Homo sapiens: one gene and its partner. The protein of the gene in region 2 interacts with the protein of the main gene of each other region in a pairwise test. Each region holds a gene or a part of one and is shown on either strand. Other genes may lie near its edges.

The links. Proteins that work in one complex are often made in the same cells at the same time.
Region 1: the proteins of ADCY4 (region 2) and PPARG interact in binary tests that used the Homo sapiens proteins (3 or more experiments, as listed by UniProt).

Annotation. Positions count from the first base shown.
Region 1 is NC_000003.12:12,414,540-12,418,191, reverse strand, and holds part of PPARG (peroxisome proliferator-activated receptor gamma), read right to left. Parts: intron 1,489-3,652; coding exon 1,038-1,488; intron 1-1,037. UniProt on the Homo sapiens protein: Nuclear receptor that binds peroxisome proliferators such as hypolipidemic drugs and fatty acids.
Region 2 is NC_000014.9:24,324,979-24,328,630, forward strand, and holds part of ADCY4 (adenylate cyclase type 4), read right to left. Parts: intron 1,365-3,652; coding exon 1,321-1,364; intron 1,188-1,320; coding exon 1,101-1,187; intron 910-1,100; coding exon 840-909; intron 497-839; coding exon 399-496; intron 1-398. UniProt on the Homo sapiens protein: Catalyzes the formation of the signaling molecule cAMP in response to G-protein signaling.

The DNA of each region.
Region 1 (3,652 bases), on a different chromosome or scaffold from region 2:
TCTGAGATCAGCCTGGGCAACATAATGAGACCTCATCTCTACAAAAAAATTTTTAAAATTAGCAGGGCATGTTGGTGTGCAGCTGTTGTCCTGTCTACTTGGGAGGCTGAGGTGGGAGAATCACTTGAGCCCAACTGTAAAATGGCCACGTATTACTTTTATGAAGTAGCATGATCATAGCTTACTAACTGCAGTTAGAAGCTGCAGTGAGCTATGACTGTGCAACTGCACTTCAGTCTGGGTGACAGAGTGAGGCCCTGTCTCACAAAAAAAAAAAAAAAAAAAAAAAGGAAAAAAAAAAAAGAAAAAAAAAAGAAAAAAGTCACACTCAGAAGAAAATCTGGCTTTTGGAATTGGTTAGTCAGATCATGTACTACTTGCAGGGCCAAAAATACAACAAATTGCTAAATAACTAAATTTATTTCTATGTTGTGTGTTCGGTTCACATTGCATTCTTAATCACAACCAACTACCTCACAAAGGTACTTTAAGGGAAGCCATCAGAGGAATCCACACAAGAGAGTGGGTGGAGGTCAGTAGGTATTCCTTAATTCCTGATATCACAAAAGCAATTCAAAGTAGTATCTTACTGATGGTGGGGCAGGAGCATGATTTGACCAGAAATACTTAGTGGTCCCTTCTCTACATCAAGTGAGCATTGTCTTAAGCAAAGTTATACATGCCATTACTTACAGGAACCAAAGATTAGACTGGCCTCTAATCTTCCTTTCTGGAAGGAAAAGAAAGAGACAAAGAAAAGAAAAGAAAAAGAAAAAGGAGAAGAGGGCATTTGACTGGAAAAAATATATTGTTGAGGGATGAAAGAGAAGATCCTGGGTTACTTATAACCTTCACACCGCAAACCTATGACACTCTTTCTTGGTACAGTGTTTTGCACGTGTAGTGATGATTCATGGCATCATGCCACTGGCACTTAAAGTGACAATGCAGACTAACACTAAGGAAATCCAAAATTCTTTTGGCCACCCCACCATCATCCCACCCTCTTTCATAGAAGATCAAAAGACAAATCTTACCTCCACTGAGAATAATGACAGCAATAAATATTGCCAAGTCGCTGTCATCTAATTCCAGTGCATTGAACTTCACAGCAAACTCAAACTTGGGCTCCATAAAGTCACCAAAAGGCTTTCGCAGGCTCTTTAGAAACTCCCTTGTCATGAAGCCTTGGCCCTCGGATATGAGAACCCCATCTTTATTCATCAAGGAGGCCAGCATTGTGTAAATGATCTCGTGGACTCCATATTTGAGGAGAGTTACTTGGTCGTTCAAGTCAAGATTTACAAAACCAGGAATGCTTTTGGCATACTCTGTGATCTCCTGCACAGCCTCCACGGAGCGAAACTGGCAGCCCTGAAAGATGCGGATGGCCACCTCTTTGCTCTGCTCCTGCAGGGGGGTGATGTGTTTGAACTTGATTTTATCTTCTCCCATCATTAAGGAATTCATGTCATAGATAACGAATGGCTGCAAATAAAACAGGGAAAACGTGGATGACTTGGAGATTTCTAACTCACAGTGAATGCCATCCCAGGTTCAGAAAACTGTTTATGTAAACTTGCTTTGCTAACTAAAATCTTTAAAGCTGAAGATGCTTAATAATGAGAAAATACTCTCAAGTTCTTTTATTCATCTTAATTATCTTCTGGGACCAAACATATTTCACCAATTTTGGTCTTCTTTCCCTTCAATTTACACTGTAACACTTTACCTATGACTGGCTAAGAATCCTGATTTCTTTTGTTTGGGGAGTCTTCATTGTTGATTTTTATATTATTTGTTTGTTTGTTTTTGAGACAGAGTCTCACTCTGCGCCCAGACTGAATTACAGTGGCACAATCAGGGCTCACTGCAACCTCCACCTCCCAGGTTCAAGCAATTCTTGTGCCTCAGCCTCCTGGGTAGCTGGGATTACTGGCATGCACTGCCACACCCAGCTGATTTTTGTATTTTTAGTAGAGATGGGGTTTCACCATGTTGGCCAGGCTGGTCTTGAACTCCTGGCCTCAAGTGATCTGCCTGCCTTGGCCTCCCAAAGGGCTGGGATTACAGGCATGAGCCACCACACCCGGCCGATTGTTGATTTTTAAAATGATACAAAATCTACTGTTTATCTTGGCTTTCAATGAAATACACTTTTAACCTTCTTTCAATAAAAAACCATTTCAGCAACTCAGCGTTGAAAATACCCACTTGAACATAAAGTAACTACAGGTTTAAAAAAATTTTTTTTTCTTAAAATTTCTTTTTCCTTTTCCTTTGTTCTCCTTCACAGGTAATAACTTTTCCGTTTTAGATGAAATCCTCTCAGATCTCAAATGAAACTATGTGCACATAAAATATGCTTAACTATGAAAAATCACTCGGAAAGCAGATTACAGCTCTTGAACCAAGAAAATGTCTATTTCTTTTTTTAATGCTCTGGAAGCCATCTATTTCACAAAGAGCAGATATAGAAGGCCTACAGGTGAATGCTGCAAAAAAGCAATTTTGAATTTATATTTTAAAATATCTGTCCTTATAGGTCAAACAATCAATAAAATACATGCCCCAATTATTCAAGTTTGCAATAGGCTGCCTTCAAAAGTTAAGTCATTTGGTCATGACATTCTCTCTCTTTTACTTCCCTTGTATAGAACTAAGCAAGGTTTGTAGTCATTGAGAAATTCTCAAGGCTGTTCTGACTAAGGGGTAACATTTTACTTACACTGGATACACTGAATGACACATAAGGAGTTAAACCTTGAATCCTGTTCAAATACTTGTATACCTGAAAGCACTGGAAGAAGAGCTGAGGGTATGTGTGTTCCAGCTTTGGTTCTGTGGTGAGCCATGTGACTTAAGAAAAGTCATTTACCTTTCCTAGGCCTTAAATTTCTCAATCAGGGGTTTCCATCTCTTCTCCGGAGGAAATTCTAGTTGCATTTCTCAGAAGCAGGATGTGTGTGGGGAGTGGGCATATGTGTGGAGAGGTGTGAGTGTGCATGCACGACAAACATGAAGTCTCTGATGGACTAAAAGTAAAGATTGTTTTGAGCAGAGATGCTGACAATTCTCTCCTGAAAGGAGAGAAGGTGCATGAGTGGCCGTGGCAGCCGGCTTCAAGATGCACTGGTTGGAGATTCTATTCATATCTATGGAACTCTATGATTTTCATCAAAAGATTAAGTTTGTTCTAAACTGGAGGAAATAACACCAACATTGAGGAGTCTCAGATATTAAATATATTTCCAAACTTGTACGTCACATCAACACCCTTTACTGGAGTTATTCTGGAAGTTTTTACTTTTGTTACCAAAAAATTCACTTCAACTGTACTACTTAGCAAACTCCAAAAGAGGACAGATGTGAGGACCCCCAAACAGGTTTACTTGGTGGCTCTAATTTTTAAGGAAATTGGGACCAAACTGTCCTTACCGTATTTCTTAAACATTTTGCTTGGGTGGTTTCTTTCCTTTTTCTTTTTTTCTTTTCAGGATTAATATTATTAATGGGAGGAATACAAGGGGGGCAGAGCAAGTAACATCGATGAAAATTTACTGTATTTTTCCAGAACGTCAGGTTCTAATTATGAGAAAAATGTGAATGGATAATGATGCTTTCACAGAACCTAGAGAAAACGTGTTTCTTG
Region 2 (3,652 bases):
CAGGCGTGAGCCATCACACCCGGCCACCTGGCTGAGTTAAGAACAAGTCCTCATCCCTCCTAGCAGTGGACTAGGAATGAGGGCCTACTTTCTAAGCTCATGCATTTGCTGCCAGATTTGGGTTTCTCAATGGAAACAAACTGGCCTTCATGGGGATGTTGTTAGAATCAAAAGAGATGCTCATGGGAAAATGCTAGGGCTGTGTAGAAAGTCCACAGGATCTACAAGGTTAAGATAAGGGCCGTGATTATCATTTTCCCCAGAACACATGTTTCCTCTGTGGGTAAGTGCCTGAAGCTAAGGGGAAGGGGTGAAGGAAGAAAGTGTGGCCCGGGGTCATGAGGGCAAGGTGATCCGCTTATGACAGCCAGGGCCTCCTTTGCCTGGGGCACTCTCACCTGTTTGTCACTAGCATCTGGATGATGAAGTTGGAGAGAAAAACCAGGAAGGTGCAGGCTTCATAGTATTTGAAGGCGGGGATTGCAGAGAGTCGGTACTGAAAGTGAGAGGGCCAGAGGTGGAGACAGGGTCCAGTGCTACCCATCACCTTGAAGGCATCACTCCCAGGCAAGGGGTGGGCTCCTCAGCCTCACCGCCCAGGCTCCAGTTCAGTTCCATGTAGACCCTACCAGTTCTCCAAGGAGTTACCCTCCTTCCTCCCCCTACCATCTAGTAGCTCAGTCTACAGAGTGACTTTCCTTTAGAGAGAGGCACAAGCTCCTCACCCCTAGGATCACAAACTGAGCAGACTTGGGGAGGAGACCCAAGGGCTGACCCCTCCCCAGCACCAAGGAACTAAAGTTGGGAAGTTGTTTGGTGCCACCCACACCACAGCCCACCTCTTTCTCCATCTCCTTCTCTCTGAAGTACAGTGTCAGTGGGTTGAAGTCCTTCGACTGCTTCCACTGTCTGGTGGGAGGTGGGAGGGTGGGTGAAAGCACCAGAGAACAGAGGGCACAGAAGGGCAGGAAGAGGGCAGAGTGAGGGCAAGAGGGGGTGGTCAGGCGAGTCTTCCCTCCAGCCCCTCAGGGAGCACCATCCCTTCTCCACCATATGACCTCAGGGCCTGCGGCCCCCCCAGCCCTCTTTGTTCTCCGTACTTCTGCGAGTTGAGCTGCTCAATGACCTGGAAGAACTTGGCATCCCCGGTGTCCAGTTCATCATCTAGTCCCCGGGGGGTACGGCTCCTGCACAGTGAGAGCCAAGTCCATCACCACAGAGACCCTCAGAGCGTCTGGGCAAAGCAGGAGCAGACCCCCAGGGAGGATGGAGGGGGTCATCCAGACAGCCCCACTGGCAAAGACTTTGAGGCCTCCTCACCGATCCAGGCTCCACTGGGTGCTGAAGGAAGCCAGGGTCTTCTCCTGTTGGGAGAGCACAGGGGGAGGTGGGCATGGTGGGTGTTTTCCCTGCAGTGAGGTAGACCATGAGCCACACTGCATGCTCTATACATGTCTTTGACCTTGGGCATTTCACTGGGCTCTTTCTTTTGCCTCTAATGACCTCTCTGTCTCCCAAATCCCACCTGCCCTTGAAGGGGAGGTTTGAATCTCCTTAAAGTTTCCCCCTGACTCTCTAGACTCCCAGGATCTTTGTGTGTGTGTGTGTGTGTGTGTGTGTGTGTGTGTGTGTGTGTGACTGAATCTTGCTCTGTCACCAGGCTGGAGTGCAATGGCATGATCTCGGCTCACCACAACTTCCACCTCCCAGGTTCAACCGATTTTCCTGCCTCAGCCTTCCAGGTGGCTGGGATTACAGGCATGTGCCACCACGCCCAGCTAATTTTTGCATTTTTAGTAGAGATGGGGTTTCACCATGTTGGTCAGGCTGGTCTCAAACTGCTGACCTTAGGTGATCCGCCTGCCTCGGCTTCTCAAAGTGCTGGGATTATAGGCATGAGCCACCGTACCTGGCTGGATTTTTTTTTTTTTTTTTGCAACGGAGTTTCGCTCTTGTTGCCCAGGCTGGAGTGCATTGGTGCAATCTCAGCTCACTGCAACCTCCGCCTTCCAGGTTCAAGCAATTCTCTTGCCTCAGCCTCCTGAGTAGCTGGGATTGCAGGCACGCACCACCACGCCTGGCTGATTTTTGTATTTTTAGTAGAGATGGGGTTTCGCCATGTTGGCCGGGCTGGTCTCAAACTACTGACCTCAAGCTATCCATCTGCCTCATCCTCCCAAAGTACTGGGATTACAGGTGTGAGCCACCGTGCCTGGCAAGATTTCTAATATTTGACTGAGCCCCTGGAACTTCAGGGGCTAAGTGGATTTCTGTGCTAGTGAAGGTCCTGCCTCAGGAGACACCCTTGAACAAAGGGTCCTGCTCTTCCACCCTAATACTCCCTAGCCTGCACACCAGTGGAAAGCGGCAGGAGGTCTAGCATGGGCCCCGGCAGGCATTCCTGCTATGTAATTGTACCTAACACCATCTCACAGTCCCTGGGCTTGTAGCAGTCCCCACACACCACTCCACCCATGCTGGAGGTCTCATCCTGCAACAGTCAGCTGAACCTCAGCTTCTTCCTTCCTCTTCCTCCTGCCAGCTTAACCCTCTGACCTCTCCCCTACCTCATGTTAACACTTGGAATTAAGTACTTCCTGCAACCACTGCTGCCAGTGTCCTTCCCCCACTCCCCAGTGTTGGGGGGTTGAAGAAGAGAGCATGCAGTTTCAGGAATTGAGTTAAACAGAGACATTTCCTGGTGCTATGGGTGCACAGCCCTAGAATCAGAGACAGGAGGAAGTGGGGGGTCCAACTGCCTTTGTGGTGTCAGGGGAAGGCACTCTCCTGAGTAGAGGCTGGGGAGTTATGGACATGGTGTGTGGGTGGCAAGCCACCCAGGCACCGAGGCAAGAGACAGAGGACACGAGCAGTTCCAGTATAATAAAATATAAAACAAGAATTGTTATACCAGATATAGATCTTAGATATGATTATATATGAGTATCATTAATCATTAGTGGGTAGCAATTACTTTTTATTCCAATATTATGATAATCCTCACTCAATAATCATAGCCTAGGAAAAACCAGGCCATACAGAGATAGGAGCTGAGGGGACATAGTGAGAAGTGACCAGAAGACAGGAGTGCGAGCCTTCTGTTATGCCTGGACAGGGCCACCAGAGGGCTCCTTGGTCTAGCGGTGACGCCAGCATCTGGGAAGACGCCCGTCACCAAGCGGATCATGGTCCAGCGGTAGCAAAAGGTGTCAAGAAACAACACCAGCTACTTAGCAGACCGGGAAAGCGGGGTGGGGGGGGGGGTCTCCCTTTCCCTGGGGGAGTTTAGAGAAGACTCTGCTCCTCCACCTCTTGTGGAGGCCCTGACATCAGTCAGGCTCACCCACAGTTATCCGGAGGCCTAACCGTCTCCCTGTGATGCTGTGCTTCAGTGGTCACGCTCCTAGTCCACCTTCATGTTCCATCCTGTACACCTGGCTCTGCCTTCCAGATAGCAGTAGTAAATTAGTGAAAATACTAATAGTCCCTGATATGCAGAAATAATGGTGTAAGCTGTCTTTCTCTTTGTCTCCTCTCCCTCTCTGCCTCGGCTGCCAGGCAGGGAAGGGCCCCCTGTCCAGTGGATATGTGACCCACATGACCTTACCTATCATTGGAGGTGACTCACATTCTTTACCTTGCCCCTTCTGCC